Linked DNA regions of Homo sapiens. The protein of the gene in region 2 purifies or fractionates together with the protein of the main gene of each other region. This does not show direct contact. Each region holds a gene or a part of one and is shown on either strand. Other genes may lie near its edges.

The links.
Region 1: the proteins of PITPNM3 (region 2) and VAPA purify together in Homo sapiens (co-immunoprecipitation; 3 studies listed by BioGRID and IntAct, with this or other methods). This does not show direct contact.
Region 3: the proteins of PITPNM3 (region 2) and VAPB purify together in Homo sapiens (co-immunoprecipitation; 3 studies listed by BioGRID and IntAct, with this or other methods). This does not show direct contact.

What each region holds. Positions count from the first base shown.
Region 1 is NC_000018.10:9,942,611-9,953,293, reverse strand, and holds part of VAPA (vesicle-associated membrane protein-associated protein A), read right to left. Parts: intron 8,371-10,683; coding exon of another isoform or gene 8,236-8,370; intron 2,900-8,235; coding exon 2,726-2,899; intron 1-2,725. UniProt on the Homo sapiens protein: Endoplasmic reticulum (ER)-anchored protein that mediates the formation of contact sites between the ER and endosomes via interaction with FFAT motif-containing proteins such as STARD3 or WDR44.
Region 2 is NC_000017.11:6,552,268-6,563,063, forward strand, and holds the start of PITPNM3 (membrane-associated phosphatidylinositol transfer protein 3), read right to left. Parts: upstream 4,289-10,796; 5' UTR 4,140-4,288; coding exon 4,118-4,139; intron 1-4,117. UniProt on the Homo sapiens protein: Catalyzes the transfer of phosphatidylinositol and phosphatidylcholine between membranes (in vitro). Binds calcium ions.
Region 3 is NC_000020.11:58,439,875-58,450,557, reverse strand, and holds part of VAPB (vesicle-associated membrane protein-associated protein B/C), read right to left. Parts: intron 9,652-10,683; coding exon 9,475-9,651; exon of another isoform or gene 9,474-9,474; intron 6,482-9,473; coding exon 6,323-6,481; 3' UTR 1-6,322. UniProt on the Homo sapiens protein: Endoplasmic reticulum (ER)-anchored protein that mediates the formation of contact sites between the ER and endosomes via interaction with FFAT motif-containing proteins such as STARD3 or WDR44.

The DNA.
Region 1 (10,683 bases), on a different chromosome or scaffold from region 2:
GACTGGAAAATGAGGGTGCTTCTCTGTGTCAAAATGACTTAGATCCTCCAGTCAAGAGTAGGCTGCTTCATTCTTGCTGATATGGCTTCACACAGCACTATGTCTTTAGAGCAGAAGGTTTCTCAGAAGAAAGCAGAAGTCACTCCAAGCAGGAGGTTGTTATGACACTGTGTGCAATGTGAACCTTGGGAAAAATACTAATACCTGTTAACTACACAGTTGTCTTTATCTCTGTCTGTTAACCAATCTGATAAATGGCAGGACAGTTTTTTACTTTTTTCAGTACAAGGCAATATTTTCTCCCATGATTCCTTTATTGTGCTTATAAATAAACACTAACTAAAAGAGTACACCTAATGGCACAGTTTTATTTGCATTACTGGATTTTCTGGAGTTGGGTTTTTTTGGTCTCATGCTAATTAGTCCTATATAAACAGTAATTCTCAGTTTCAGCTACACATCACAAACATCTACAGAACTTTTAATACTCCTGTGATTGTGACTCATTAGGTCTGGGGCAAGCCTGGTCAACTGTAACTTTTTAAAGCTCACTAGGTGATTCACATGCAGTGTGAATTAAGAACCACAGGGCTAGGGGAATTAAAAGGGATAGTGAACAGACAGGAGCAAGAAAGTGAACCTGGCAAAAAATTATGGTGGGCCTGTGTATAGGGTCTGAAATTCTGTAAGCCAGTGGGTCTTCAAGGGTTTTGTTTTTTTTTTTTTTTTGAGACGATGTTTTGCTCGTCACCCAGGCTGGAGTACAATGGCGTGATCTCGCTCACTGCAACCTCTGCCTCCTGGGTTCAAGTGATTCTCCTGCCTCAGCCTCCCAAGTAGCTGGGATTACAGGCACCCACCACCACACCCGGATAATTTTTGTATTTTTAATAGAGACGGGGTTTCACCACGTTGGCCAGGCTGGTCTGGAACTCCTGACCTCAGGTGATCCACACGCCTCAGCCTCCCAAAGTGCTGGGATTACCGGTGTGAGCCACCCGCCCAGCCCAGCTTTTTTGTTTTACTTTTCCAGCAGCAGAATCATCTCTCAAATAAAATCTCATACAGAACACTAGCATAAAAAGAGTAGAAACCAGGAATAAAGTCTCTCTCACCTACTTCCCTGGTTCACTCTTCCTATTTTCCAGCCCTGCCCCATCTATGTCATTCTCACTGTTTCCACTTCTCCCCTCCCTGCCAGAGGTAAACAGTGGCTTTTGAAAGAAATCTATTGAGCACCCTAAGGAGCACATCTTTATCAAAGAACAGAACTATGGAAGTCATGGCAGATGAAGTAAAAGTAACCAACAACATCCTTTAAAAGATCCATGGCGTGTAGGTGTGAAATAAAGATATTCTTTCCGCTACCCAGACAAGTGCTTGGAAGCAGACGGGTACCCCTCGAGGGGGTACTATGAAACATCAAGCATGAAGAGACACAAAAATTCACTTTAAAAAGCATTTCAGCAAAGGAGTTCACAGATCGACTTAAAACACAGTGCCTTTAATTTAGAGTGTAGTTCCTACATACACCTAACAAAAGGAATAATCAAATAACTCCCATCATTTAGCTTATTTTAGTTACATACATTTTTGTATCATCTACTTTGCTGCAAAGAGCTTCAAACAAAGCCTAGAGAGCAACGTATAGGTATTTAGGTCTTGAAACAAGTAATTACTTGTCAAAGACAAATTATTCATAAATTTCAGACATATTCAAATCAGTCCTCCTTCGCCATCCATTTAATTCAATCAAATACATGAATGACTACCACATGCATGTATGGTGAATGCAGAGATAAATGAAGCACTGCCCTTGCCACCAAGGCAATTACTGCCCACTAGAGGGAGAAAGGCCTCTAACAAGTAAGAGCAGTAGAAGGCGATCAGCATAGTGGAGGCACAAAGCAGACATGACAAATCGATTTTTTTCTTCTTTTGGAGAGGGTCCCAGCAAAGGCTATATGCTGTAGTAGCAAAACGTCAATGTGTGTATGTGCTGTGTCGGGAGGGGCAGGGTTCTGGGCCTTTCCAGTCACAGTGAAGAGCTTACACTAAAGCAAAGAGGGGTGATAAACAGATGCTTCTCCAGCATACTCCAGCCCAATGCTGCCCCACGCAAATACAATGTGAGCTTCAAATGTGAGCCCCGTATGTAAAGTTAAATTTTCCAACAGTACATTTAAAAAGTAAAAAGAAATGGGTAAAATTCATTTTAATAATATATTTGATTCAACCCAATATACCCAAACTACTATTTCAGTATGTAACCATTAAAAAAAAAAGATTTTACCTTTTTCTGTACTAACTCTTCAACATCAGTATTTTACACTCAACAGCACAGCTCAATTTGAACAAATCCCATTTCAGTGCTCAACAGCCCTAGGTGACTAATGGCTATGATGTGGGACAACACAATCCTAGGCAGTTCAGTATGACTAGGGCACAAAATGGGAAGGACATGAGAAACAAGAGCAGAAGCTGGCAATACTGCAGGCCAGATCACAAATAATTAGAATGTGTGCTAAAGTAAGGAACTTGCAGCAATGAGAAACCACGGGAAGACTGTTAAAAGAGGAGTAGGGTGGGGAGCAAAGGCACTGGGGCAAAGAAGAAAGAACTGACCAAGCAAAAATTTAAAAGCTAATTGCTAAAATGGCCTAATAACACTCACATGTCCTATACCTTCATTTCAATCAATTTATTTTCAACCAACAGAACTTACTCTCAGGTGCCGATTTTCTTCTGATAGCTTCATCATTTCTCCCTGAAGTCTTTTACACTCTTCCATTAGTTTCCTTGTTTCGGTATCATTAAGTGAAACACTGTGTGGTTTTGGCATAGGTCCATCTTGCTTAGATGCATTCAGTGGAACAGCTTTGCTAGGTTCCATATCATTCTGCATTACAAAGATATTGGGAATTTTTTAACTAACCAAATCTCCTTACAGGTTTTAAACAAATAACAATATAAATTCTACATCTTTGTTCATGAAAAACTCTTTAAAAGGCCTAAATCAGTACATGTCAGCAGTCAGATTAGTCTAAATAACCAGCCCACTCCCTCTATTCCCATAATCCCTGGCACGTACCTCTACCATAGCACTTTATTATGTATCTTAATAATTATTGTTCAAGTTCTTTCCTGTAATACTTCAAAGGCTGAGAGAGCAAGAGCCATCTCTCTTTGTATTTACCCCTAAAACCAGCACTTTGGTCAAGAGTAGTTATTCAATGAAAGTATGCTGAATGACGTCAACAAAATCCATTGAAGGTCATTTTCCGTGCTCTGGTTGTGCAATTCAAATAAGGTTCTGGGGGGTAGGGGGATATTATCGTAATCATTCCAATAAAATCGGAAACTACCTAAGAAAAAACATGCCCAAGAAAAGCTAACTTCTATTAATTTGTCATCTTTAGTAATGCTGTTTGCTTTAATTCACGTGATTCAACATCACAGGAGCACTTAGCATGCTTTGAAGACTATGAGCCCCAAAATCTTAATCCTCACCAACATTGAACCATTTGAAGCTAGTGAAGGCCTGGAGATAAATATCTATGACAGCACCTATGTATTCTTCAGCCCGTTGTCTAAAGTACCCCAACATCCTTCACTCCAACAGCATTTATGTCACCACACATCGTAGCAGTATTAGTGTAACAAGCTTTTTTCATTTTAATTAAATTCACTTACTTTAAAATAATTTTAGGTAAAATCTGCTTTATTCAGCTATAAACTGCTAAAAAAGACATTTACTAAATCAACTTTATGGCATTCCACAATACTCATTTTATAAGATTTATCAGAGGCTGCACACCTACCACACCATCCCAGCTGCCAATTTTATATTAAGTATAAACAGATTGTTCAAAGGGCAAAACTTGTTATTCTTATGAAGGGGATGTGATTTGATTAGTATGCCTAAATCCATGTAAAATCTATTTAAAAATGAAAATTTATAATGAGGTTCTAATGAACAACAGCATGTATGTGACCTGTCGGCAGACTCTTCCATTCTTCTTCAAGCTTCCCAGTTAAGCAACGTTTTAAAGCAGCCTACTTCAATTCTCTGAGTTTTTCTCTTGCTAGCTTTTTTGTTCTTCACCCCCATTTCTCCCACCCCAACCAATCTAATAATAGCCGCCCCTATTATTAAAAAACTGTTTCAGATATATTTTACCCTGCCAATACTTTTTCCTGTTCTTTTCCTTAATAGTAGTTAGAACTCATTTGTGATTTTCAGTGTGGTCAAATTCTATCCTAGCACAAATCCAACTTCTGATAATGAGGTTGGCACACTGACTTACTCTATAAAGGAGGTGGCAATGGCCACCAATATGGCAATAGAAGAACTTTCAGGTTTTGGTTAAAAATTGGGAAAAAGTATCATACTCATACCAGAAAACTGATAAAAACTTAAAGAGGATGAAGCAGGGCACCATGTCTGATGTCTGTAATCCCAACACTTTGGGAGGCCGAGATGGGTGGCCTGCTTGAGCCCAGGAGTTCAAGAACAGCCTGAGCAACAGAGGGAGACCCTGTCTCTACAAAAAACAATTTTAGAAATTAGCCAGGCATGGTGGTGTGCACCTGTAATCTCAGCTACTCATGAGACTGAGGTGGCTTGAGCCCAGGAAGCGGAGGTTGCAATGAGACGAGATCGTGCCACTGCACTCCAGCCCAGGTGAGAGTGAGACCCTATCTCCAAAAGGGGGAAAAAAAGATATACATGGGGTCAACACCAAAGAGAAAAAAAACTAAAAGAATCATCAAGCTCGACAACTGATTATTTTTAAATTCTTTACATTGCATAAAATTTTAAATTACGGAGGGAAGGGAAAAAGTCATTTCTCACAATCTTGTCAAATCAACAAAACTATTATTTATATTACTATTATTAAATGACATGTCATTAAATATTCTATTCTATGCCTTGCCAAAATTAAACATTTCACTTTTGTTAAGCATTTGATGGGCAGCTTTCCATTCTTTCAAATTTTAAATAACATGTCCATAGGAAGACATTCCATAAAAAGATAACTAGATTGGAATTAGATTTAGATTTTTCTAATTCTAATAGAATTAGACTTGGAATTAGATTAGAATTTATCTAAGCAAATAGAATTAGATTTTTTTGTTGTTGAATTTCTCTTAAAAATGTTATACTGCTTTTGTAACAAAAAGGAGAAGAAATGATAACCAATATGTGGAGCATAAACAGAATAGAATGCAAAGAATACAGTGAAGCCGAAACACATTTCAAAAGTGTGCCCAATAAGTTATATCACATACTACCTAGGCCCCTTACAAACCAGTGAACATACATAACAGGTGCAAGAAAATCTAATTTATTTACATATACATATGCTACATATGTATATGTTATGCTATATATGTATATGTAATGGGGGGAAGTGTGATGGGAGGGTGGGCTTTGAGTCATGCATGGAGTGACAATCTGAAGAGCCTGATGGAAAAAATTAAGCAGGTGTAACTTTAAGTATATGCTTCCATCCAGGACCTCTATTAGTGAGGTTTGGCTCCAATAAAACAGCTTGTTTCTTGAGAGTTGCTTCAAACTGGTCCAGAAAGAAAAGACTGGTTGTTCTGAGAACCATGAAACAAGCACACCAGAGAGATTCAACATGCTGTGACTCTTAGTAAATTGATGAATGGTAACCTTACATTTAACACTGCAATTCAGAATAAGCTGGAAGGTCAAGGTGTGTATCAACTAAAACAATAAACCAATCTTGTCCAGTTTCCACTATATTATTTAGCCTATCTGCAGTAATCCTCCATCTGAGTTGTCCAGTCATGTTCTGTATAATGATGTTTTGGTCAACAATGATTCATACATATGATAGTGTTCCCATACAATAATAATGGCACTGAAAAATTCCTATTACCTAGTGAGGTCTTATCACAATACATTATTCACGTTTGTGGTGATGCTGGTGTAAATATACATACTGTACTCCAGTCATATAAAAGTATTGCACATATGATTTATGTACAATACAGAATACTTGGTAATAAATGACTATGTTACAGGTTTATGTATTTACTGTTATGCTTTTTATCATTTATTTTAGAGTGTACTCCTTCTACTTACGAAAACAAAAAGGACACTCTAAGTCAGACTCCAGCAGGTCCTTCAGGAGGTATTCCAGAAGACACTGTTAACATAGGAGATGTCAGCTCCATGAGTGTTACTGTCCCTGAAGACATTACAGTGAGACAGGATGTGGAGGTGGAAGGCAGTGATACTGATGATCCCGCCCCTGTGCAGGCCTAGACTAATGTGTGTGCTATGTCTTAGTCTTAAGAAAAGAAGTTTTTTTAAAAATCTTATTTAAAAAATAGAAAAAGGCAGCGAATAAGGACATTAAAAAGATATTTTTATTTATCTATACACTGTGCTTGTGCTTTATGTCAAAAATTTTAATTTTACAGTTTATGAAGTTACGGACAGCTAAGATTAAAGAAAAAAATTTTAATAAATGTAGCCTAAGTGTACAGTGTTTATAAAGTCTACAGTGTACAGTAATGTCCTAGGCCTTCCCATTCACTCACCACTCATTCACTGACCCACCCAAAACAACTTCCAGTTCTGCAAGATCCATTCACAGTAAGTGCCCTATGCAAGTATACAATTTTATCTCTTATGCCATATTTTTGCTGCGCCTTTTCTGTGTATAGTCACGGGTGTCCAATCTTCTGGCTTCCCTGGGCCTCACTGGAAGAAAAATTGTCTTGGGCCACACATAAAATACACTAACACTAACACTAACTAATGAGCTATTAAAAAAAAAAAATCACACAAAAAAAAACTCATAGTGTTTTAAGAAAGTTTACGAATTTGAGGTGGGCCGGATTCAAAGCCATCATGGGCCACGTGTGGGCCGCAGGCTGCAGGTTGAATAAGCTCAGTGTAGATTGTTTCGATACACAAATACTTACCATTGTAGTACAGCCACAGGCTATACAAGTCTGTAGCCTAGGAGCAAAAGGCAATACCATATATAGGTTTTTGTAAGTACACTCTATGATGTTTATACAACACATCACCTAACAACACATTTCTCAATATATATCCCCATCCTTAACAGATGCATGACTGTACTTCTGTATTCTTTTTTAACCATCAGAATTTCAGTTCTAATATCCCAAGTATTTTTACTGGGGGTTAATTAGAAAAAGAGGGAACTAGGAATTGGAAATACAAGAAAAAGTTTGCAAAGAAGCCTTGGGAAGAACAAAGGAGATAAAAGACATAAACGTGGGCCTACATTCTTACAACTAACAGGAGTGATGGATAAAAACGCACATAAAGGGAGTTAAAAGGCTAAAGTCAAGAGTACTGTCATAAACCGAGAGAGGCAAAATTAAGGTCTTAACCTATGAATTAAGAGACAGGATTTAAGTAACAAAGTTACCTGAAGTTTTTTTTTCCCACTCTAAACAGCCAATTTACTGTTTCTTTAGGATCATGACTCCCAGAAGTAAATAATTCCCAATCACAAAAACAAAAAATTATTAAACATTTAGATAATTTTTTAAAGCCTTAGTATGCATATCATCTGCAAAACCAAATCAAAGTATAAACAATCTGTTAAAACTGTGGGGTTGCCACATGTGGTGGCTCACGCCTATAATCCCAGGACTTTGGGAGGCCAAGGCAGGTGGATCACCTGAGGTCGGAGTTTAATGAGACCAGCCTGGCCAACATGGTGAAACCCCATCTCTACCAAAAAAATACAAAAATTAGCCAGGCATGGTGGCACGTGCCTGTACTCCCAGCTACTCAGGAGGCTGAGGTGGGAGAATCCCTTGAACCGGGGAGGCAGAGGTTGCAGTGAGCTGAAATTGTGCCATGCACTCCAGCCTGGGTGACAGAGCGAGACTCCATCTCAAAAAAAAAAAAAAAAAAAAAAAAAAAAGAGTATATTCCCCAAATCTCAAAGAAAAAAATTACAGCAACTTCATAATGTTCACACTTATACTGTCCTGCTCACTATATAGATTTTAGTTAAGTTCAGAAGTTTTTTAGAACAGAATAGTTTGTATGCATGATTTTTAAGTGCTTTGTAGTTTTATTGTAATTTTAGGCATAGTTCAATTCTATCTACTTCATACAACATACTCACAATACCACTTATCTGCTAGGTATCTACATTAACTTAACCATTGACACTAGTAGACTCCTAAGTCTGTTAACTCCCTATAACAAACCTTCTGTTTCTCCTGTTTCAACACACTGAGTCCCCTGGGGTCATCCTTCGTGTGATAACTGGCAGGTGTTGCAACTGTGTTGTTGATGCTGCTCATTGAAGTGACAGTCGGAGCATTCCCTGGTGGAGTTATACCCTGAGATGGCATGGGAAACATATTCTCAGATTCTCACCGAACTCTGATTTCTTCTGCATGATATTGGGAATGACTGACACAGAAAGCATTAGGCTCTAAACATTAACACTTTATAAAAATGCATTAATGCATAAGAAACAATACTAATAATAGCTATGTTAAAGCAAAAGTAGTTTCTGAACTCGCTTTTTGTATTTCCCAAACAAAATTAGTTATAATCTACTTGCATTACATGCACCTATTAAATGTACATACTTTATTAAAATTTATGCCAGCCTTACATTGTTTTAAAATGAATACCATCTAATTCTTTGTGGCTTTTAATGTTTACTAATTAATAATTGTCAATAATCTGAAAAACAAGCACTTGTATGTCTTCTTATCTTTGATAACACTCAATCTGAACAATTTCATAAACCTCTCTTGTACTTAAAGCCTATCCCCCAATACACTCACTCTCTCACACACATCCCAGGCCAATAAACACTTAAAGACTCATATAACCATTAAGTCCATAGTTCTCTTCCTTTCTTTTCAAATTCCTTTAATAGATAAAATACTGTATTATACAAACAGGTGGGAAAGGGATTCCCTAATTATACTTACTGATACCCCATTTGTTCTGTCTCAACAGAAAATAATGTATATTCAACCATTTTATGATAAGACCCCTGAAATCCCTTTATAAGACCCCTGAAATCCCTGTTCTTTACAGCCCCTCAGTCTTCATTTAAAAAAAATCAGTATTTTTTTCTAGAAAATATGTCACCTTCAAGGTCAGGCGCGGTGGCTCACGCTTGTAATCCCAGCACTTTGGGAGGCCAAGGCGGGCGGATCACAAGGTCAGGAGATTGACACCACGGTGAAACCCTGTCTCTACTAAAAATACAAAAAATTAGCCAGGCGTGGTGGCGGGCACCTGTAGTCCCAGCTACTCGGAGAGGCTGAGGCAGGAGAACGGCGTGAACCCGGGAGGCGGCGCTTACAGTGAGCCGAGATCGCGCCACTGCACTCCAGCCTGGGTGACAGAGCGAGACACTGTCTCAAAAAAAAAAAAAAAAAAAAAAAAAAAAAAAAAAAAAGGGAAATATGTCACCTTCAAATGTCAGATGGAGGACATAAATGAAATGCAATACATTTAAGAAATTTAGAAAATGTCAGAGTTAAGGCCTCAAAAATTTTTTAGAAGTGAACACAAAGAACTGAATAGGTCATAAAACTTCAAAAATAATAAAACCACATTTGATCCTTAAAAAATAACCACTACCACTAATTGGACATTACGTATATACAGAGCTGACAATCCAAACAGAGCTAATAATTCAAAGAACCCTATTTTGTACAACAGCGCTTTCGTATCATGTGCCTCCAGCTGTCAACAATACAGGGAACAGGCTCAATGGCTTTCAGTACTAGCACTGACAACAACTCAACTGAAGACACTAGGGGCCATTAACAAAATGAAATGTATTGGCACACACCTGCTGATCCCGAGGACTAGGGTAATGACACATCTTAGTGTGCTTAAGGATGGTATTTGCTTATGCTTGTTATCCAGGAAAAAATATTGAGTCTTTTTGTTCTAAAATGAAAGGGTTCCTAAGTTTCCTGGGGCACTTTATCTATGATCCAAATCAGAAAGCTATTTCCCAAAAAGTAGCCCATACTTTAGTGATGGTTCAAATAAATGAGAATTGTTTTGTCACAAATAAATGATTTTTTAAACTATAAAAATAAAAACATGGACTCAAGCCACTGTGCTTCTAAAGCTGGCTCCATTTTTCACCCTATAAGATGACCACAAACCTTCAATCATTTCCTTACTTATATATCCAGTATCAAGGTCCTAAAAAGTCTAAAGAAATCAACAAAATAACATCATACTCTTTTTTCATGTGTTCCAAACATGTAAACACCCAAGAATTAACAGCATCCATAAAAAGATCAAAATCCTCACACAAGTGGGGTATACGCATACAACATACTTGATATGGTTTGGATCTGTGTCCCCCGGCAAATCCCATGTCAAATTGTAATCTCCAGTGTTGGAGGTGGAACCTGGTGGGAAGCGACTGGATCATGAGGGTGGGTCCTTCATGAATGGTTTAGCACCATCCCCATGACACTGTTCCCATGATAAGAGTTCTCATGAGATCTAGCTGTTAAAAAGAGTGTAGCACTGCCCCTTCGCTCTCTCTTGCTCCTGTTCCCACCACGTGAGGCATCTGCTCCCCCTTTGCCCTCCACCATGACTAGAAGTTTCCTGAGGCCTCCTCAGAAGCAGAAGCCGCCCTGCTTCCTGTACAGCCTGCA
Region 2 (10,796 bases):
CTAGGCTGTTCACTCTGCTCCTGCCTAACCTGGGGACCTGGCCCCCACCCCCTACCCTCATTCTCTCAGTGGGAGAGAGGGGCAGCCTGTTGGGGTGCAGAGGGAGGGGCACAGGGAGGTAGACAGGAAGGGAGGGGCAGTGTGGCTGGCAGGAGTCAGAATCAACCCTTCCCAACAAAGGCAGCTCCACCAGGCTGGCCTCTCTCCAGCTTCCCAGGAGCCCTGGCGTCCCAGCCAGAGGGATCTGTCGAAACACAGTGCCAAGTCTTACCCCGGCACTCCTGTCTTCATGCTCTTTGGAGTTCCTTTTAGCCCTCTGCATTCTTCCGCTCCAGCCAGGTTTCTTTACTTTTGGGCACTTCCTACCCACCTTCCACCCCTACCCATAGCAGTCCTCCCACACTTACACATGTGCCTCTTCCTTTCCATCCTCCTAGCCTTTGTTCAAGCCACTACCCCCACCTGGAAGCCGGCCCCTGGCCACCTTTCTTTTTCTTTTTTTTTTTTTTTTTTTTTTGAGACGGAGTCTCGCTCTGTAGCCCAGGCTGGAGTGCAACGGCACGATCTCGGCTCACTGCAAGCTCTGACTCCTGGGTTCATGCCATTCTCTCGCCTCAGCCTCTCAAGAAGCTGGGACTACAGGCGCCCACCATCACGCCTGGCTAATTTTGTTTTTGTATTTTTAGTAGAGACGGGGTTTCACCGTGTTAGCCAGGATGGTCTCGATCTCCTGACCTCGTGATCTGCCCGCCTCGGCGTCCCAAAGTGCTGGGATTACAGGCACGAACCACCGCACCGAGCCCCTGGCCACCTTTCTATACAAACTGTGCCAGCCTTTAGGGCCCATCTCCCAGAGAAACCCAGCCTTCACTGTCTGTCTCAAGCCACTCACTGGCCTCTCTGCTCCGTGGGGAGCTCTGTACTGTAAATTGTCCCTCCTACTCAGAGCTTCTGAATCCTCCCCACCCCTGCCCCCACCTCCCTGTTGCTGGTTAGACTGGGGCCACCATAAATGATGCCTTTCTGTGTAACTGAAATCTCCCCTAGAGATTGAGAACTGGTAATAACCCATCTGGATTCACCTTCTGAAGATCTATCTCATCCTCTCTGGGCCCCGATAACAATTTCTCTTGTACCTGGATTCTCCTGGCAGTGTAAGAGTCCTTTCACTGCCTCCTTTTAGCTCTTGTCCGACACAAGCCATGCCACAAATCTGGCACAGCCATGACCTGCTGCTCAGGCTGTGCACTGCACAACTCCAGGGGTATTATTCACTAGACCACACGTGATGACCTAAAGTCAGGTACCATGGCAGCCCTGGGGCCCAAAGCTCTGCCTTTTCTCTCCGTGGGTGATCTACTGGCCAGATTTTAAAGGGAACATCTCACAGGTCATGGTGCAGACCCCTCATTCACAGGCCGGGTGCCACAGCCTCCACTCCTGGCCTTCAGCAGCCCTTTGTTCCTGTGTCACCCCCCGCCGCCCCACCCCGCCAGAGTGAAGGCCTGATCATTCCTGCCCATCAGTCTGCCCATCCGAGGCAGGTGGTACTGAACAGCCACCCCGCTCTCTATGTTCTCCTTGGGCCTCAGTTTCCCCAGCTGTGAAGAAAGAGATGGGTTCCTGATCTCCAAGGGCTCCCTCTGTTCTGAAGCTCACCAATCTATTCTTCACAGATGTTGCCAATGAGGAATATGTGATTCTCATACACACATTACTGTGTGTTGTTTTTGATTCAGTAGGCTTATGAGCATCAAGAAGAGAAGGGAGACCAGGCGCAGTGCCTCACACCTGTAATCCCATCACTTTGGGAGGCTGAGGCAGGCAGATCATTTGAGGTCAGGAGTTCAAAACCAGCCTGGCCAACATGATGAAACCTTCGTCTCTACTAAAAATACAAAAATTAGCTGGATGTGGTGGTATGTATCTGTAGTCCCAGTTACTTGGGAGGCTGAGGCAGGAGAATCGCCTCAGCCCAGGAGGCGGAGGTTGCAGTGAGCCGAGATCAAGCCATGCCCTCCAGCCTGGGAGACAGACCGAGACTCCATCTCAAAAAAAAAAAAAAAAAAAAAGGAGAGAAGGGACATTTACAAAATGCAGAGGAGCCTGGGAGAGCTGAGCTGAGAAGGGAGAGGTAACCAGACTCCTTGGGATGACTGCTGAGTGTGGGGGGCAGGAGCCCAGGCACTGGATCTACAGACACGGGGAATCTGTGTTGCCTCGAGGGAAAGGGCCAAGCGTGAAATTGCAGCAGAAAAAAACCAAAATGTTAGAACAGCACAAGGCATTGATGCTCAGAGCAGGGCAGTTTTTCCACCTGTCACTGGAACAAATTCCCACAGACTCTCAGCCCAGGGACCAAAGGACCCACAGGCTAAGGCAGAGGGACTGAGACTGGCACCCCCATTTGGTAAGGGGGTGACCTATCAGGGCAGTGACAGAGAGAGTCCTTCGAGTCCAATAGACCTGGCTGTGAGTCCAGGCTCTGCCCAGACCCTCTAAGCCACCTTGAGGCTGCTATTTCTCTGAGTATCTGTTTCTAGATGTTTTAAAAGTGGGAGAGTCGCATTTCCTCCCTCCCAGGATCACGGTACAGTAAAGAGCTTAGCACTCTGCCTAATACATAGAACAAGCAGCAAATGTTCACTGCCGTTGCGATGACAGTGCCCTGGCAGGTGACCTGTGCTCAAGGCGTCCCAGTGCACACACACACTCACACACACACAGGGTAGGGCAGCAGATGGGACACACGCCCTGCCACAGGCCATTTTAAGGAGTCGGGGTGGGTGAGGACCCAGGCACGGTGGAGGAAAGAGGGAGGCAAGAAGCCTTTTTCAGCTTCCTTGGTGTCATCTCACAGTGCCTCCCTCAGGAGGGGAAAAGGGAGGGGAGTGAGAAGGCTGTTTAGCTGTGTTCCATACTGGCTGTGCCTCACACAACCGGCCCCACCCCGACAGGACTCCTTGGGGACAGAACGGGAGTGCATTCTCAGGCACCTAAATCTTACAGGCTCAGTGCCTGCACAGGGAGACGGGTCCGCAGCCCAGGGTCCCGGGCAGCTTTCGGGCTTGGGGGTGGATTGACACACAGCCCGATGGTATTCACACCCATTCCTTCACTGTCGCGCCCGGTCCTGGGGGACGGCATGGCACCAGCCAACGTCACGGGTTGGGTGTGAGTTCATGGTAGATTCTCACACGCCAGCCTCACAAGAGGCACTGCCGAGACCAGGCTTGCTGCCGCCTACTGTATGGCCGGCCCTGTGGGCACAGCTGTCCTCCACCCGCCTCCCAAGGCACCATCGGGCCCAGAATGTGCCCGATGAGTCACGGGCCTGGGTCTCCCCAGCATGGGCGCAGCAGGGGGGCTGAGTCCGCCTGAGCCCCGGTGCCCAGCTCAGGGTCTGGCACAGAGCAGATGCTAGTGAATGAACGTCGGGCTGGATGAATGAACGAATGACTAATGCCCGCTCCCTCAAACCACAGGCTACACCGTCTGAGCCTGGGGGAGGGCAGAGCCCACGGGACCCCAGAAGAGGCCTCCGCAGCTGAGGCTTTGCGTCCCAGGGTCGATGGGGGAGGGGGCGGGGCGGCCAGCAGCCGGCGCGGCACGGGGCTCCCCTCCTTCCCGAGAAGGAATCTGGGTCTCTGGACTGAGCTGGTGACGGGGGCTGGGGCGGGGGGTTGTGGCGTCCTGGATGGAGAGAGCTGCAGGAGCAGGGGGCGCGTCCCGGTTTGCGTTGGGGTGTGGGACGAAGCGGCGGCCGCGGGACATCCCCTTCGGTGGCGAAGCCCGGGTCTGCCCGGGGCCTCCGCGGGGTGCAGAGGGCTCCCAACGGCGGGACTGGCCCGGGGCGCCGCAGACCTGGCCCTTTCCGGCGGGGCCGTGGAGAAGGGGACGCGGTGTCCCCCGAGGTGACCGGGGGCGCAGGAAGGACGGGGGGCGCGCGGAGCCCCCTCTCCACGCGCGGGAGGTCCAGCCCCGCTACCGCCCCCTACGCCCTCCCGGGACCTCCGCCCACCTGCGCGAGGGGTTCACCTGGGCCGGCGGCCCCTCCTCTAGACGCGCGAGTCCCTCCCCCGGGCCCCGGCCCTGCCCTCCCCGCGCCCGCCCTCACCTGCACGGCCCGCCTTGGCCATGTCCCGGGCGGCGGGCTCCGGCGGCGCTACGCGCGCTCCTCGCGCTTCCCGGGCCCGGCCCCGACCGCCTCCGGCCCCGAACGGACTCCGAGCGCCGCGCCCGCGCCCCCGCCCCGCTCGCCTCGGCTGCCGCCACCGCAGCCGCCGCCGCCTCGCCGCTCCCTCCCGCTCCCTTAAAGGCGCCGAGCGGCGGCCGCGCCCCCCCCCCACCCCACCCCCCGCGCCGCCGGGGAGGGACTGACGAAGGAAGGCGCCCAACGCCGCCCCCGCGGGCCCGCACCCCCGCCCCGGGCCGTGGCCGCCGCGCTCCAGCCCGCTCCGCTCCGGCCCGCGCGGCCACCGCAGCGCGCGAGGGGCGGCAGCCCAGGGGCTCAGAGACGCGGAGACAGCCCGAGACACTGCGGGCCAGAGACGGGGCCCTGGACTGGGAGAGGGGCGCACAGACTATTAGACAGCGCTGGAGAGAGACGCTCCTAGGGCCAGAACGCCGAGGTGGAGGGAGAGAGAGAGAAATTCAGAGGAGACCAGAGACCCAGAGCCCGGCTCCGGCTCCGGGAGAGACGGACAGAGGGAGCGGAGAGAGGAAGGAGGACAGGGATCCAAGGGAGGCCCCCACGAAGTCAAGAGGAAAGTCGCTCTGGGATCAGAGACAAGAGAGGGACCCCCTCCATCAGCCCCCGCTCCAGGGGTTCTGGATCATTTATGGCGTCTGACCTAACCTCAAAAGAGAAAGGATTCCCGTGATTTTAACCCTCAAGGGATAAGTAAAACACTTGCACATCCACCTGGGGTTCTAGGCTGGAGCAGGCTTTGTGGACCCCAGCGGCCTGGTGGTGAGCAGTACCCGCCTTCCACTTCCTAAATCGGGATGCAGAGATTCTAGTGGACAGGCCTTGTGGTCCGGGGAGATATGGGTTATGACTTCTGTTTAGGGGCAGCAGGGATCCACAGTCCAGCCCCAAAAGAGAGCAGGAGATGGCCAATTGTATTTGGCGGTGCCTGAGAGGTAACAACCCTCCACTGAGAGGGTGCCCTGCCTCCCCCAGGAATTGGTAAGGCTGAAGCCCAGTTACCATCTGTAGAGCCAGGCACCCAACCCACCCTGTCCCACTCCACTTAACAGGGAAAAGGTCAACTGGAGAATTCCATCCATGGTCCAGGCTCCAGGGTCCTGCAAGCTCCTCTATGGAAACAGGGCACACATGGGGTTAGATGGGGGCTCTCAGTCCAGTGCCTTCTCTGGGGCTTTGACTCCATTCACAAGATTCCTGCTAAGCAGTCCTCCAGCTCCTGGTTGGTTACCTCCAAGGACAGGAAGCTCAGTATCTTAAGTGAGAGTTCTTCCTTTTATTAATTTTTTTTTTTTTTTTTTGGCTAGTGCTGGCCTTAAGAATGTTCTTACTCGTTTGAGCTGAAATCTACAACCCGCATGTCCCATCCATGAGTTCTGCTCTGCCTTCCGACACCTCACCCAACAAAACCAGGGCTTCCCAAGGCCTTCTACCCAAACTCCCTAGTATGGATTCACCCAGGGAGAACAACCATCCACGTTTGCCAGAGCTCACCTCCCAGGAAACCCATGAGTCCCAAGAGCTCTGGATCCCAGAGCCAGATGACAGCACCAACTCCAACAGATGTAGAATTTCAGAAGCTCTGGGCTCCTGAATCCAACGCTGTTCACCAGCACCTGCCATTGGTCACCAGCTGGGAGAGCAGGAATGGACCCTGCAGCCTTTCCCCACTATGAGAATGGGACTGGGGATGAGAATAACAAGGACTATTGATTGAACAGGCGGTATTTACCCTCATGTACTCTCTCAGCTACATTGCGTTATCCTCAGCATACACATAACGAAGTGGGGGCTAAGAAAGTTCGGTGCTTGTGGTCATGGAGGATCAATTTCAGGCCCCTGTGCTTTGTCTACTGGGCCTCACTGGCCTCACCCTTCCCTGAGGTGTTTCAGAGGCCTGATAGCCTGGACAATGTCCAGGCTTGGCCACCTGGTCTGTAGGTGTGAGTGGTCACGCAGGAGACAGAACGCTGGCTGCAGAAGAAGCAATGCGCCTGCCACAGAGGGGACACGCCTGGGCCTGAGCTCCTCCCCAGCCCTGGCTCACAGTAGCAGCAGTGACCAGAGGGCATCAAGGGCCCTCCTGCTTCTGGGCACAGCTTCACGTTGTGTTTGTGTGTGTGCCTGGGTATGTGTGCATGGGGTGTATGTGTGTGTGCTTGTGTGTGCTTAGGGATGCATGCATGGGTGTGTGTAGGCACACTCGTACACACAAACACAGGCAAACACCTGCTGACAGATGCTCCCTGGGTGGGCACCCAGACCCCTTCCCCTCCCACCACTTAGTCCTCACAAACCCTAAACTAGTCACCCAGAAGGGCCTGGGTGGAGCGGTTAAGGGGAGGTGCCAAGTTGATGGGAGTTTCAGAACTCATCTCTCCAGACCACTCCACACCCCATTTCTCAGATGGGAAGACAGTAAGCCAGATCTGTCCCCTGAAAACCACGACTCAGAGGCCCAGATCCATGGTTCCCCTCTTTAAACCTTCACCCCAGCCTCTGTCCGCCCCTAAGGCAGCCCCTGAAGGCACTGACTGTTACCAGCTGCCAAGGAAGTTCCAGCCCAGCCTTCTGACAGAGCAAACACATCAAAACTCAAGGCCATTAGATTAACTGGTGGGAGTTAACTTCCTGCGTCAGAAGAATTGTCCTTAATTGAAGAAAGGGATAACTAGCAATTTAGCCACGCTGACCTCTGCTGCCCGGAGGAAAGAGAGGCAGGAGCCAGCCAGGGCCTACGGGGCCTCCCAGTTACCAGAGTTACTGTGCCAGTAACTCTCCCAGTTACCAGAGTTACTGTGCCAGGAGACCAGATCAAATCCCTTCTCTGAGACCTGGCACCCAGGCCCTTTCCTCTGACCACAGCTTGTTCTGCTCCTGCCTTCACAGTGGCCAGCTGCTCCCAGGCCCAGGCAAGCATCTAGCCCAGAGAACCAGTAAAAATGAGCAGGGGCCCATCCTGTCAATGGCTGTGGAGGACGTGTGCAGAGATGTGGACAGGTTGGAGAGCTCCAGGTGGGTAAGGAGTGGGAGCTGGCTGCAAGACAACTCCTCGACATGGCAGACCCCAGGCCTGGCTATCCAGCCTGGACAGCTGGTGTGAGCACTTGGAAAGCTAAGTGACAGTTCCTAGGAGCCAACATGGCCCCCCTGAAAGCTAGTCATGCCAGGCAAAGCTCATTTCCTATTTGGACACGGTTATAACGACTAGTGGAGTTGGGCATCGCCTTGCCTTCTGGGCCTGGGTTGGGGCACGGCTGCTGCCCAGCTCTCTGACAGTAACTTTGTAAACAACAAAGGGAGTCAGGAGCAAGAAGATAGCCTGGTCAAGTGGCTTACCCCGGTCCACTCCCTGATGGGCTCCAGTGGAGGGAGCCTCCACCTCCCTCCAGGACTTGAGCCATGTCAAGCATCTCAGCGCAAGTGCTCACAACAGAGAATAAGCTGTGTAAGAAGGACGCTGCTCATGCAGACTGGACAGATGCACGGCTGTTCACCATGGCCTTGACAAGCTGGGACCACGGGCCAAACCCAATCACCATGGCCTTGACAAACTGGAACCATGGGCCAAAGCCAAGAGGATGACATGAACATGGACAAGCAAGTGGGGCCATCCTCCCAGGCCAAACACAAACATCCAGCTAGGAGTGTTCACTCCCACTTGTAAATTTCCACAGCCCCTTTTGTCCTTGAGTCTCACTCCCTGGCCAATATCACATCACTATGTCTCACCTGGACCACTGGAAGCACCCCTTCCTGATGTATTTCCCAGCCTATGTACCCTTCTTCACCCCCTCCTTTCTGGTTCCTATGCTTTAAAGTGTCATGGTTGCTGTCCACTGCCATGGGAACCACCCCTAATCATAAAAGTAGTCCCAGACACAGTTGCTCTTCCTTGGAGTCTTACAGAATTGTTCTGAGAGTAGCTGGTTTCTTGTCACCGTCTCCTCCTTGCCCCAGGATGCCCCCAATTCCACCCAGCATCCAGAACACTGAGTGGAACATGCCCTTCCATCCAGAACTACTCTTCTCCTCGTCCTCCTCCTCCTCTTCCTTCTCCTCCTCTTCCTCCTCCTCTTCCTCCTCCTCCTCTTCCTCCTCCTCATTCTCTTCCTTCTCCTTCTCCTCTTCCTCCTCCTTCTCCTCTTCCTCGTAGTCCTCCTCCTCCTCCTCCTCCCCTCCTCCTCTTCCTCCTCCTCTCATTATCCTCCTTCTCATTCTCTCTCTTCTCCTCCTCTTCCTCCTCCTCCTTCTCCTCCTCCTTCTCATTGTCCTCCTTCTCCTCCTCTTCCTCCTCCTTTCTCATTCTCCTCCTTCTCCTCCTCTTCCTCCTCCTTGTCTTCTTCCTCTTCTTCTTCCTCCTCCTCCCCTCCTTTTCCTCCTCCTCTTTCTTCTCCTCTTCCTCCTCCTCCGCCCCTCCTCTTCCTCCTTCTCATCCTCCTTCTCTCCTCTTCCTCCTTTTCCTCCTCCTCCCCTCTTCCTCCTCTTCCTCCTCCCCTCTTCTTCCTCCTTCTCTTCATTCTCCCCTCCTCCTCCTCTTCCTCCTCCTTCTCCCTTCCTCTTCCTCCTTCTCCTCTTCATTCTCCCCTCCTCCTCCTCTTCCTCCTCCTTCTCCCTTCCTCTTCCTCCTTCTCCTTCTCCCCCCTCCTTCCCTCCTCTTCCTCCTTCTCCTCCTCCTCCCCCCTTCCTCCTCTTCCTCCTCCCCTCCCCCTCCTCTTCCTCCTCCCCTCCCCCTCCTCTTCCTCCTCCTCTCCCTTCCTCTTCCCCTTCCTCCTTCTCCTCTTCCTTCTCCCCTCCTCCTCCTCTTCCTCCTCCTTCTCCCTTCTTCTGCCTCTTCCTCCTTCTCTTCTTTCTCCCCTCCTCCTCCTCTTCCTTCTCCTCCTCCTCCCCCTCTTCCTCCTCCTCCTCTTCCTCCTCCTTCTCTTTGTTCTCCCCTCCTCCTCTTCCTCCTCCTTCTCCCTTCCTCTTCCTCCTTCTCCTCTTCTTTCTCCCCTCCTCCTCTTCCTCCTCCTCCTCCTCCTCTTCCTCCTTCTCCCCTCCTCCTCCCCTCCTCCTCTTCCTCATCCTCCTCCCCTCTTCCTCCTTCTCCTCATCCTCCTTCCCTCCTCTTCCTCCTTCTCCCTCCCTCCTTCCCTCCTCTTCCTCCTTCCCTCTTCCTCCTCTTCCTCTTCCTCCTCCCCTCCCCCTCCTCTTCCTCCTCTCCCTTCCTCTTCCCCTTCCTCCTCCTCCTCTTCCTCCTCCTCCCTTCTGCCTCTTCCTCCTTCTCCTCTTCTTTCTCCCCTCCTCCTCTTCCTCCTTCTCCTACCCTCCTCCTCCTCTTCCTCTTCCTCCTCCCCTTCTCTTCCCCTTCCTCCTCCTCTTCCCATCCTCTTCCTCTTCCTCCACCTTTTCCTTTTCCCTGCTGGTGGCTGTGGCTTATCTAGTGTGTGCTCTTTTTTTTTTTTTTTTTTTTGAGATGGAGTCCCACTCTGTCACCCAGGCTGGAGTGCAGGGGCACAATCGCAGCTCACTGCAACCTCCACATCTGGGGTTCAAGCGATTCTTCTGCCCCAGCCTCTTGAGTAGCTGGGACTAGACACCCAGCTAATGTTTGTATTTTTAGTAGAGACAGGGTTTCACCATGTTGGGCCAGGTTGGTCTTGAACTCCTGACCTCAAGTGATCTGCCTGCCTCGGCCTCCCAAAATGCTGGGATTACAGGTGTGAGCCACCGTGCCCAGCCAATCTAGTGTGTGCTTCTACCTTCGACCCCAAGAAGGGCTAGGACCTGCCTGTCTTAATCCCCTCTGGTGAGTCCATTCTCAGCAGTTACGTTGACAGCTGTGGCTTCACCCTCAAGGCAGATGCTGTAAAGAAGGCACTGGCCACCACCGTCTTATGTGTGATTTCCTGCAGGGGCAGGAAGATTCCCTTAAGGTTAACACGTGACCTTTTAGGTGAGCCCCAGACCCCCATGTGTAAGGACCCCCCTACCCAAGACAGACCCCCCACGGAGCAGACCAAGCAAAATGTTCTGTCTTTACATGAGACTGCATTCCCCCTTTATTCTCACCACAGTGGGCGGCAAAATCTAGAAAACATACATGTGCGTGTTTCCGCTGTGTTTTCAAAACATGTCTGGAGACATCTGCAGAATCTGTTGAACTGGACCTCATCAGATTATTTATTTATTTATTTTTTATTTTTTAATTTGAGACAGAGTCTCGCTCTGTCACCCAGGCTGGAGTACAGTGGCCCCATCTCAGCTCACTGCAACCTCCGCCTCTCAGGTTCAAGCAATTCTCCGGCCTCAGCCTCCTGAGTAGCTGAGATTACAGGCACAAGCCACCATACCCAGCTAATTTTTGTATTTTTAGTAGAGATGGGGTTTCACCATGTTGGCCAGGCTGGTCTCGAACTCCTGACCTCAAGTGATCTACCCGCCTCAGCCTCCCAAAGTGTTGGGATTACAGGCGTGAGCCACCACGCCTGGCCCAGCTTTTTATTTGAGATGCTGAAATAAGTTGAGGCCCAAGCCTGGATTGCGTTTTCTCAGTTGCTGTTTAGCTTGCTTTAGCCTTATTGAATGGGGTGTGCTGGTAGATGGG
Region 3 (10,683 bases), on a different chromosome or scaffold from region 2:
TTCTTATAGGAAGTTCCAAATGGCAGCAGTTGATAAATCGTCTTTAAAAAGGAAACGACAGCAACAGAAATGAGAACCAAATATATTTTGCATTTTTCTCTCGGTGTATCATCTTGAGTCACCTTACTTAGGCTACACACGAATGAAAAATATAAAAAGCCACGCCCACTAATTTCGCAGCACCTCATATAGTAGCAAACAGACAGAGGGTACTTACGAAACGTTTGCTAAGGAGTGAATGATGAAAAGCAAAAAGTAGTTCTTGTACACATGGTCTCAATATCACAGACAATAAATTCTGACCTTTGAATTCACATAAAAGATGCAATGGAAAAACATTTTAACATGGATACTGTACTAGAGGATTAACAGCTGAATTCAGTCTATTTCTTAAAAACAAAAGAAAGACGGGAATGCAGGCAGCCAGTTCGGAGAAACAGCCAGGACTTTTTTGTATGACATGGAAAAACCGGCAAGTCAACGTGTGAAACGTGCACACTCATTTCTCATCTTCTTAAACCCTAAAAAGCCCCGCAATCTTGTTAGCACTAAGCCTGGATGAAATTGTGTTAAGATATCTGATTAGTCTCCCTTAGTTGGCATTTTCCAAAGGGAAAAAAAAAGGGAACCTGTTTTATTTCAGTCAGACATGGCTTTGGGTATCAGTGAAACGAAGCTCTGACAGCAGCTCCACCTGCAGAAGGCCAGGCGCACTCCTGCAGCTCATCAGAATGCAAGCAGGAAAGCAGGCCAGCAAGCGAGCATCTGTCCTGCACCCACATCCATTAGCCAAGTGATTACATCTCCATCAGCCCTGGGGTGTAATAAAGCAATTGTAATCGGGCATTGTTACAGGATCAATGTTTCCTGGTTTAAAAATAAACATCAGCATTTATCTAGCAGCAGAAAGCGATTCTCCCACAGTACTGTTTTATTCAACTGACATCTTTTAATCAAAGCAATCCATATCGTGGCAACATTCCAAGGTATCATAACTGCAAATATTTATGGCAAGTTAGATAATGGCTACATTTTTGTTGCTACACTTTTCTTCCTTTTCTACGGATTTAACACAGACATTTTCTAATAAACTAATTCCATTAAGAAAAAAAAATCTCAAGTAATTATATTCATGAAGACAACCTCTCATCCACCTCCACCCGTTTCTCTTTTAACTATCATCCATAACTGTTTATGTGAGTTCATGTCTTTTAAATTTTTCAAAATATCTCTGTAATGAAAATAAAAAGCCCCTATTGTTAAGTGCCGTAGATACAGCCAAAAACATGGCATGGAGGGAGGTCAGGGCCCCCTGGCACAGGGGTGGGTGAGCTTGTGCAGCTCAGCTAATGTTCTAGGCTGTGGCTAATGGGATTCAGAGGCTGGAGGAAGAGGTCTGTGAAGCTGGGGGCAGACCCATTCCCACAGCCTCCCAAGCTTGCCTGTCGGCTGACGCTCCTTATCAGGGGCTTCTATTACTTGCCCTCTTTGCTGATATCCTGGAGAACCGCAGTGCTAATTCAGGGAAAGGCCTGAGACATCAGCAGCTCAGCTGTTTTCAAACCTCAGCAGGGCCCTTCTGTAATACCAATTTTAATCAACTGCCCTCATTCACATTTAATTTACAAGTCATGTAAAGCCTCCATATAAAGCGCTCCCATCATCTCCTTGCCGAGACGGACTGGCAATATTCTTTCTAAAGCCCCCAAAGTCATTCTCCAGGAGCATCAGCAGAGATCTTCAGGCAATGAGAAAATGGAATATGTACCTTTTTTCACTGTCTGTAGTGTGTTCAGTTTCCAACAGAAAAAGAAAAAGCATCTGAACTACAGTCTTAATTCTACTTACTTTAGTGTGAAAATAACTGAATAAGGTACGGAGGCAGACACAAAAGATGTACAGACGGGCAGAGTAGCTGAGGCAGGAAGGCCTCATCCACTCACTTCCCTGAAGCAGATTTTCAGAGCTGAAATGGTATCTTAGCAATGTAGGCCTTACAGAGACTGATTTAGTTCTAAAAAGTTGCCCGATTTAACCTCCTGGAGCCTTTATTTCTTCGTATGCAAACAGAGCCATCTACCCCCCAGTCACAGTTGCAAGGATTAAGTTCAATGAGCGAATGTATTGGAAATGTTCTATACAGGTAAGGAGTGGCATTGAAACAACAGTAACTTTCTTGAAAAGGTTCCTATCAGAGCAGATCTGTCTGAGGAAAAGGGGCCAGGGAAGGCGTTCTCCAAATCCAATTAGGCCACAGAAACTCAATTCGCGTAGGGCCAGCATGATCTCAGAGCTGCTCTTGGTGTTCCAGAAGAGTGGTCGTTGGCCTTATGGGATTTGTATGTCATGAACTAGAGTCATCCATCTATATACTTTGCAGGGGCCTTTCTAAATACAATTCCATTCCAGCTCATCTTTGAGAACACTCCTTCTCAACAACAGCAAACATGGCCCCAAGTGTTAATTAAGAGAGGTCTCCTCAGAGTGGTAACTTTTCATAGTTCAGTTTGGTTCTTTCTCCTTCTTCAGGCCAGACAGCCGGGGGCAGGGAAAGCCACGAGAGGCCCTTCAATGAAATGCCATCTCCAGCAGGGGGAAGCAGTGGCCTCTACACCGAGAAGGTCTCAGGAGTTAAATGTTATTCAGGTGTTCAAAGTGACACTGGGAAGCCCAAGACCCCTATCTCTTCATACATGTATTTCTCAAACTACAATGAGAAATGGGCCATTCCTTTAGAGAAGGAGCTGAAAATGACATATAACATTGTATTTTGGCATGGATTCTGAGTTTGCAAACACAAAAATTTGTGTATGCAAAAAAATATAGGCACGATTTGAAAACTGTCAAGCTACTGACATACGGCACATATGCCACACATGCACACATGCACACATGCACACACACACAGAGTCTGTTTTCAAATTCATCTGAAAGGCTCTGTAGCTCTGAGCTCTCACTACATTCAGTTCTATCTGACTCAACATAGCCTGCAAACTGGGCAATGATATCTTTCGATAGCAATTCTGTTCCTGGGATTTGTTTGAAAGCGTTTAGGTTTTCACGGATCACTGGAGGTTCTTCATTTTTCCCCCTTCTGTGTTATGGAGGTATAAGTCGTCTCTCTAGCCATAAACTGGCCACTGGTAAAAATCAATTTTGATTTTATCAGTATGTATTACTGCTGGTGCCAGCAGTTCAGAAGACGAGAGAAGGAAAACATGCAAACTAGGAGGAGAAAAAAGTTAAAGCCAGTTCCTCACACCTACAAATAAAAAAGCCTGCTGTCTTTAAGAGGTATTTTGTATCGTGCCAAGGAAGCTTAAGTTACCAATTTAAAACTTCAATCAATAAAAACTTTCAGGATTCTGTCACCGCTTCCATCTCTTCTGCATTTGTGAGCACTATGGCTGGCATTTCTGAAGCCAGGGCCGCCCTCTCTGAGGTGCTGTGGAGCCAGTAACCACAGGAGCAGACTGGAGGGCAGCCTGGCAGCAGCTCCCCCATGCACACTGCCCAGCGGCATCCTCCCTAGGCTCGCTCTTTCCATGCCAGTTTCGTCCCGATTATCTGACTCTTAACCCTCTTGGGGCAGGGCAGGCCGTTGTGACAGGCCCCATATTCACCTCCTCTTTGCCTTATTCTTTTTTTCATTATGTAATTCTAGGGAAAACACCCTAAATGTGCATGCATCTCCAAGTCCTCCAGGAGCCACGCGTGCTCCACATTCTTTCTTTTCCTGGCACATTTTTGGCTGCCAGGATGACTGAGAAAATAATCAACCTTCCCATCAGTCACCTGTTTCTCTTCCTGAGCAGTTTCCTTCTGCCACTCAGTCAAAAGGCCCACAAACATGTTCACCAAGTCCTAACCTCTAGAAGGGAGAGAGACTTCAGAGACTGATTTTTAGCTGCAACCAAAATGTCCACATCCTCTGAGAAGCTGAACACCTTCTCCTAGATGTACACAAAACTCTAAATCACCTTCAAAGGTCTAAAACAGAGTAGTTTCTCAGATATTCTTTTTAAGAACTGTTACAGACTCACAAGCCAAATCCCATGACCCGGCTGTTTTTGTGAATAAAGTTTTATCAAAACACACGGCCATATCCTTTAAAAATAAATAGAGCCCTGCTCTAGTGTAATGGGACTGTACTGTACCCCTAGGCACTGTTGGGGACCACCTAAGCACTCTCCTATCAAAGACATGAGGGCCTGGAAGCTACAGGACTTAACTGGCTGCAGCAACTACAATTAGTAAATTTTAGTCCCCTCACGGAAAGTCAGGTGGCAGAAGGCACATGCCTTACAGCTCGGTCTTTTCACTCCCTTTTATAAGTACTGGGGGACACATGGGAAAAATCCTGGAGACGAATTCCTATTGGGGTGGCCTCCCTGTCTGCACACTCAACACAATCCATGGGTGCCTGGGTAACAACTAAGTCTGTTCACCATTTCTGTGAGTACCTGGGATTCAAAGTCAACTTTTTTCATGAAGACAGGAAGTTACTTACTCAGACCAACCATAGACTTCCACTTCTCCAGTTTCAAGGCCCCTGACCCAGCTTGACAGAGCCAGGCTTAGGAGCAACGTGGCTCAACGTATGTGACTTCTAAGGACTGCCTTCCTTCTGATGAACTTGTCCTCTCAAACCTGTGCACAGTGGGACTGTGCCCAGAACGCCCGTTACTAGTCTCAATGGCATGGTTCCCTGACCTAGAAGGGAGGCTGCTTTTTACTGAAGGCCAAAGCAATGGAAGGCCAAGGGTGACCAGGTGCTCAGCTTTTTCAGCAGTTTCATTTTTCATACTGTCAGCTGAAGACAACCAAAAAAAAAATACACACACACACACACACACACACACACACACACACAGAGTTAAATCATGAAACACGTATTTCTCAGTGATAGGGCTCATTTTAAAGTTAACCTTCCAATGGCAAAATAATAAAAATGATAAAATAATAATTCCCCCCATAGAGCAAATGTGACAAAATGACAAAAGAATTCTTAATTTTGGGGCTTTATTATAATTTTTCTTTTCAAGATGCTACATAGTCAAACAGAACTGGGTTGGTCTTTTATGGCATAAAATTAATTCACAGTCAAACTCTCAACTAGTACTAGAAGGATTCGCTGAAGAGTTTCTCTCTTCCCTTGCTCCCCACCCACAACTGCTGGTGCCCTCGCTTCTAACCCTCTGCAGCCCGATCCATTTGTCCTGACTCCAGGCTAGGTCCCCAAGGGGAGGTCAGGCTCAGACTTGGACCTGGGCGCTGGAAGTGTGAGTAATGGTTGAGAGGTGGTATAAGAACAATCTAGAAGACTGACTACTCTTCATTAAAAAAGGTAACCTAGAGTTGACTGTCACTACTGAGAATTTCCCTCCCTATGACAGTTGTTATTTACTGACCCAGAAAAAACACTTCCTGGCAGCTCTTCTCCAGCATCCCAATAAACCCCACCTCCACATGACCAGACTCTCCAGAGACAGAGGAGCCCACAGCCCTCCAGCAGCAATACCAGTTCACCCAACAGAGTTCAGCAGCACGCAGCATTAACTGTACTCTTGTGACAATAAGAAAACATGAGATGAAATACATTAAATAAGTTAAATATGCATTAAACATCTCTGAATAACAGTTTGACTTCACTACATGAACCAATACAAATTTAGCTTGGTCCCTTTAAGTGAACAAAGCACTGCCATTTATTTCCAAAGCGCTGGGTCAATCAGTCAACACACGCCTCTCACTTATGACGAGTACGTCTGATGCTGCCACAGTGCAATTCCTTTGGGCTTCTGACTCTGTTCATCAGTCCCAAGGAGCTGATGGCTTGGACAGAACTGAAGACACGGAAAGCAGCCTGGGCCGGGAGTGGGCCACGTGGGGACTACTGTGTGGAGCTGACCGCACTCCCCAGCATGCTGGGCTCCAGCTCCCCAAGGGCCAGCACCAACAGGCGAGGAAGGGTGTCATTTTAAGAGAGGTAATCCAGCATCATGTACCAAGGCCTACCAATGTTTAAAATGACATTTACAATATGCCATTGTGGCATTACTCATGGTTTCCCTTGTCATTAATAAAGATCATTCTTTTCCCCCTCAATCAGTTACTATACATTTTTAACTTTCTAAAAGATCGTTACATTATATTTGTGTGTGTGTATCTGTGTATGTGTGTGCAGGGAGGGGTAATTTAAAGGCAAGACCTGTGAGATGTCATCATACATTAATTTCTTTTTACACATGGTTATGATAAATTTAAATCCCATGATATGGTGGATCCACCAATCCAATTTACCATCCTGTGCATGCTACCTCTACAAGGCAATCTTCCCAATAATTACACCAACGATAAAGAACAAAACCACCAGAGCCAAGAGCCGGGTGCTAAGGCCTTCTTCCTTCCCAGTTGGGGCTAATGCTGAAATGGGGCTGTTGCTCTGCACTGTCTTCCTCATCCGCAGTCCATCTTCTTCCTACGGGAGCAAACGCACATTTCAAAGACAAGCCAAGGCACCAGAAAGGGGAGTCAACTGTACAGCTTAACGGGATGGGCTGTTTATGCCCAGTGTTGGATGACATGATATGGTCCAACCGCATTTTGCAAACGGAGAAACTGCAGGCTACAGAGGGGAAAGGGCTAGCCTGAAGCCACTGAGAAAACAGTCCCCTCTTTTCTTTCATCCATTCCACTTGCTGCTGCTAGTTACAACAGACATCTAAACAGGGTGCTCCTTGGTTTCCCGTGATTTACAGAAAAAAGCACTTAAAAGGGTCAACTGGGCCCTTTGCACCCTCGGCCCCACCCACCTCTATGGCCATGTCTTCCGGATGCTTCTCTTCAACCCCAACCTCTCTGTCCTTCCTGCCTCTAATGAATAGCCTTCCTTGATCAAATCATCGATTTTTAAAATCACAGGCATTTCCCAAGACATAAATATATAAATAAAAGAATCTACAAAGTCAACTGGGCACGGTGGCTCATGCTTGTAATCCCTGTACTTTGGGAGGCTGAGGCGGGTGGATCACCTGAGCTCAGGAGTTCAAGACTACCCCTTGGTCAACATGGTAAAACCTCGTCTCTACTAAAATTACAAAAATTAGCCTGGGGTGACAGAGTGAGACTCCATATTAAAAAAAAAAAAAAAAAAAAACCTAAAAGTGGGACATCTGGAAGCTTTCAAATGCAGAGCTCTGTAGATAGCTGGTACTTAATGAGTTACATCCAGACTGCTGGATCAAATGATATTTGGAATATTAAAATGTGACTGGCCTTCATACACTCATCTCAAATATTTTCTACTTAATGCATAGATTTCTCATTGAAGAAGCAACATTCTTTTTCATACATATAAAGATATTTGACCATATTCCCCACCCTCCCCTTGTCCCCAAACTACATGGAAATGTAAGAAATGAAAAATTTTTTCTTCCTTCACCTCCACTGCCACAACTGCCTTGCACTTTCCTAAGAATCTGCAAGTTACTATGTAGATCTATGATGCCATTTCCATGCTCTCAAAGCCAAGCCCACATCCCTGAAGAGGGACATGCATCAAGCCATTCTATTCTGGCACAGACTCATCTTTGCTGATAGATCTCTTGCTAATTACCTCATCTCCTCATCCTTAAACCCCACACACCAGCTGTACTTTCTTTTCTTCGTTTCCTTCCATTCGCTCCCATCCGCCCGAGTACCTAGTAGGTCCTGGGGACCACAGGCAGATGAGTCCCATGGAGCTGACTCTCCCTGCAATTTGTTGCTATCTCTGTGGGACATTGATCACACTGGCTTGTAATCACTTCTGTCTATGTCTCTCCCTGCTATCCCAACAACAGAGAGCTCCTCAAGGGCAGGGGCTGTTCGTGTTTGAATCCACAGTGCCGGGCACATATTAGACCCTCAGTAAATTTGTTGGCCAGATGACAGAATAAACCAACACAAAACAAGAAGGCAGTGTTTGGCAGGATAAAGAATCTTCTAATGTTGAGATTGGTCTGATCATATTTTAAGGATATTCTGCTCATGGGGCATGGCCCGTATCACTGCACAGTGATAAACAACTGGTGGTGTCCGACTGGCTTAAAAAAAAACCCGGCAAACTAAACCATTTATTTTATTAGGTTATATAGAAGCTATTTCTACCTATTTACCACTTTAAATAGCACAGAACTCTGTTTCAGAAGAGAAATACACTCGAGAAGCTTCAGGCATAGCTTAGATTTTTAGCCAAAAAGTAGTGTCAGCTTCACAATTTACTACACACTAAAGAAATTACTGACTGAGGCAAATCAAAATCACTGCAAAGGAAGAAGATGATGCCATTTCCCAAATGCTGTCAGTTCTCCTATATCTACCTCACTGTCAGAGTAAAAGAGAAGAAAACTCATACTTTTAAAGCTGGAAGGGGCCTTAGAGGTGTTTAGCAAACAGAGGCCTAAGAGATGCTGTGACCAGCACAGATTCAGAGCTGTTTCATATTGGATGGGAGCAACTTCCACACCACCACAAGCCAAAAGAAGCACCCCCTGCCTCCCCACTTCATCACTCAGTACAATACAACCTTCCATTGCCAATGCCAACTGCCTCATCCAGAAGCTAGAAGCTCAGATTTTCCTTCCATAATCTCCACCTCCTACCCACTGTGAGGCACCCCACCTCCAAGCTCATCACCACATCAATAGTTTGATGAGCCACAACTGCCCAGACCTATTTAGAGTCTTCTAAAATCAGAACTATACTTGCATTAAAACAGAGTATAGGTCAGTATTCACTCTCTGAAAAAAGATTCTCACCCAAGTGGTTTAAAAATGCATATTCAAAATAAAAACTATTTTGGTCTCAACATTTATTTTCAATTTACAATAATGGAGAGTTTGAGTTGTTTGGGGTTTTGTTTATTTTGTTTTTGAGACGAAGTCTAGCTCTGTCACCCAGGCTGGAGGGCAGTGGCACGATCTCAGCTCACTGCAACCTCCGCCTCCTGGGTTCAAGCGATTCTCCTGCCTCAGCCTCCCGAGTGGCTGGAATTACAGGCACCTGCCACCACACCCAACTAATTTTTTGTATTTTTTATTAGAGACGGGGTTTCACTTTGTTGGCCAGGCTGGTCTTGAACGCTTGACCTTGTGATCGGCCCGCCTTGGCCTCCCAAAGTGCTGGGATTACAGGCGTGAGCCACCGCACCCGGCCAAGTTTTTTGTTTTTGTTTTTTTTTTTAAGGGGACAAGAGCTTCAACAGTTGAGAAATTTCTGATCAAGGGACAGTGGTTCTTAATTTAGGCAGATCCAAGGACCCTTTTGAGACTCTCATGAAAGCCATGGAAATTTCTCCCTGGGGAGAAAAAAATAGCCAAATACCAAAAGCAAAAAGAAATCTATATATTCACTGGCTCATCAACTTCCCCACCCAAGAAGCTAGTGAAAACGCCCTTGTTTTCTGTAGATTACCAGAAAATAAACTATTACCTTGAACTGCTTGTTCTCCTCCCGTAGCCTCTGAACTTCACCTTGCAGCCTCTTACATTCTTCCATAACCTTCTTAACTTCGGTGTCATCCAAAGAAGAACTCAGAGACTTAGACACTATTGGTGTTTCTGTCTTTGATGCAGTTGTGGATATAATTTTATTTATTTCTACATCATGCTGTTCAAAAACAAATGAAAGCCTAAGTGTCACCGACCATGTAATAATGGACTTTTTTATGCAAAGTAAAGTAGTTCTCAGCAAACACCAAACGTGGTAGCATTTCATCCACACTGTAAAATGTCACATTTATTTTAAAAATGGATTACTTTATCTGATATCTTAATAATCTAAAGCAACAGGGCCCTAGAAATTATGGATAAGGGCAAATAATGAAGTTCGGCTGAGACTAATACTTCAAAGAAAGAGAAAAAGGGCTGTGTATATTGCACTATCAAATTCCTGCCACGGAAAAATCAGCATACTGTAATTGTGCAAGCTCAGGAATTATTAGCCACAAATTACTGTCACCACAAAGATGTGAACATCCCTAGGATTGCCTTAGTGGGGTTAGGAGGCTTGGGAGAGCATTAGACAGAGGGCGAATTACTTTACCAACTTAGCATTTGGAAGCTGGGATGAAGGTGAAACAAACTCAGTGTCTGCAATGTTTCAATCTTGGGAAGTTACATACTCCCCTTATTTCCCCTGCCAAGATTCAGCTATGATCCCCTCTTGAGATTTACAGGGGATGAGAGCCAGTCAGTGGAGGGAGGGCATGGAAGCACGCAGCTTGTCAGGGAAAGAGTAACTGACGATCATTGGCCTGGAATCTAGCTCTACCCATCATTTTCCAGATGAGAAGAGTAGGCCCTGTGAAGCAAGGCCCCAGGCTACCAAGTCAACCTATCACAGAGCTGAGGCCAGAATACTGCTTTCACAGCTTCCAAACTGACCTTCCTGTGACAGGATGTACACTGGGAAGAGGGAAAAAATGACCACTATCCACTTAAAGAAACAGGGTAATGATAGTGGTAAATGATTCAGCAGAAATAAAATCTCAGGTAGTTTTGACACAAATCAACAGCACTCGCGCAGACCAACATAGATACTGTTAACACAACATTTCAGGGTACTTCTGTTTCCCAACTCCAGCTATTAATGGCTAGGATAGTTTCACATGCTGCATGCTTTCACAGTTTTGGTGTTTTT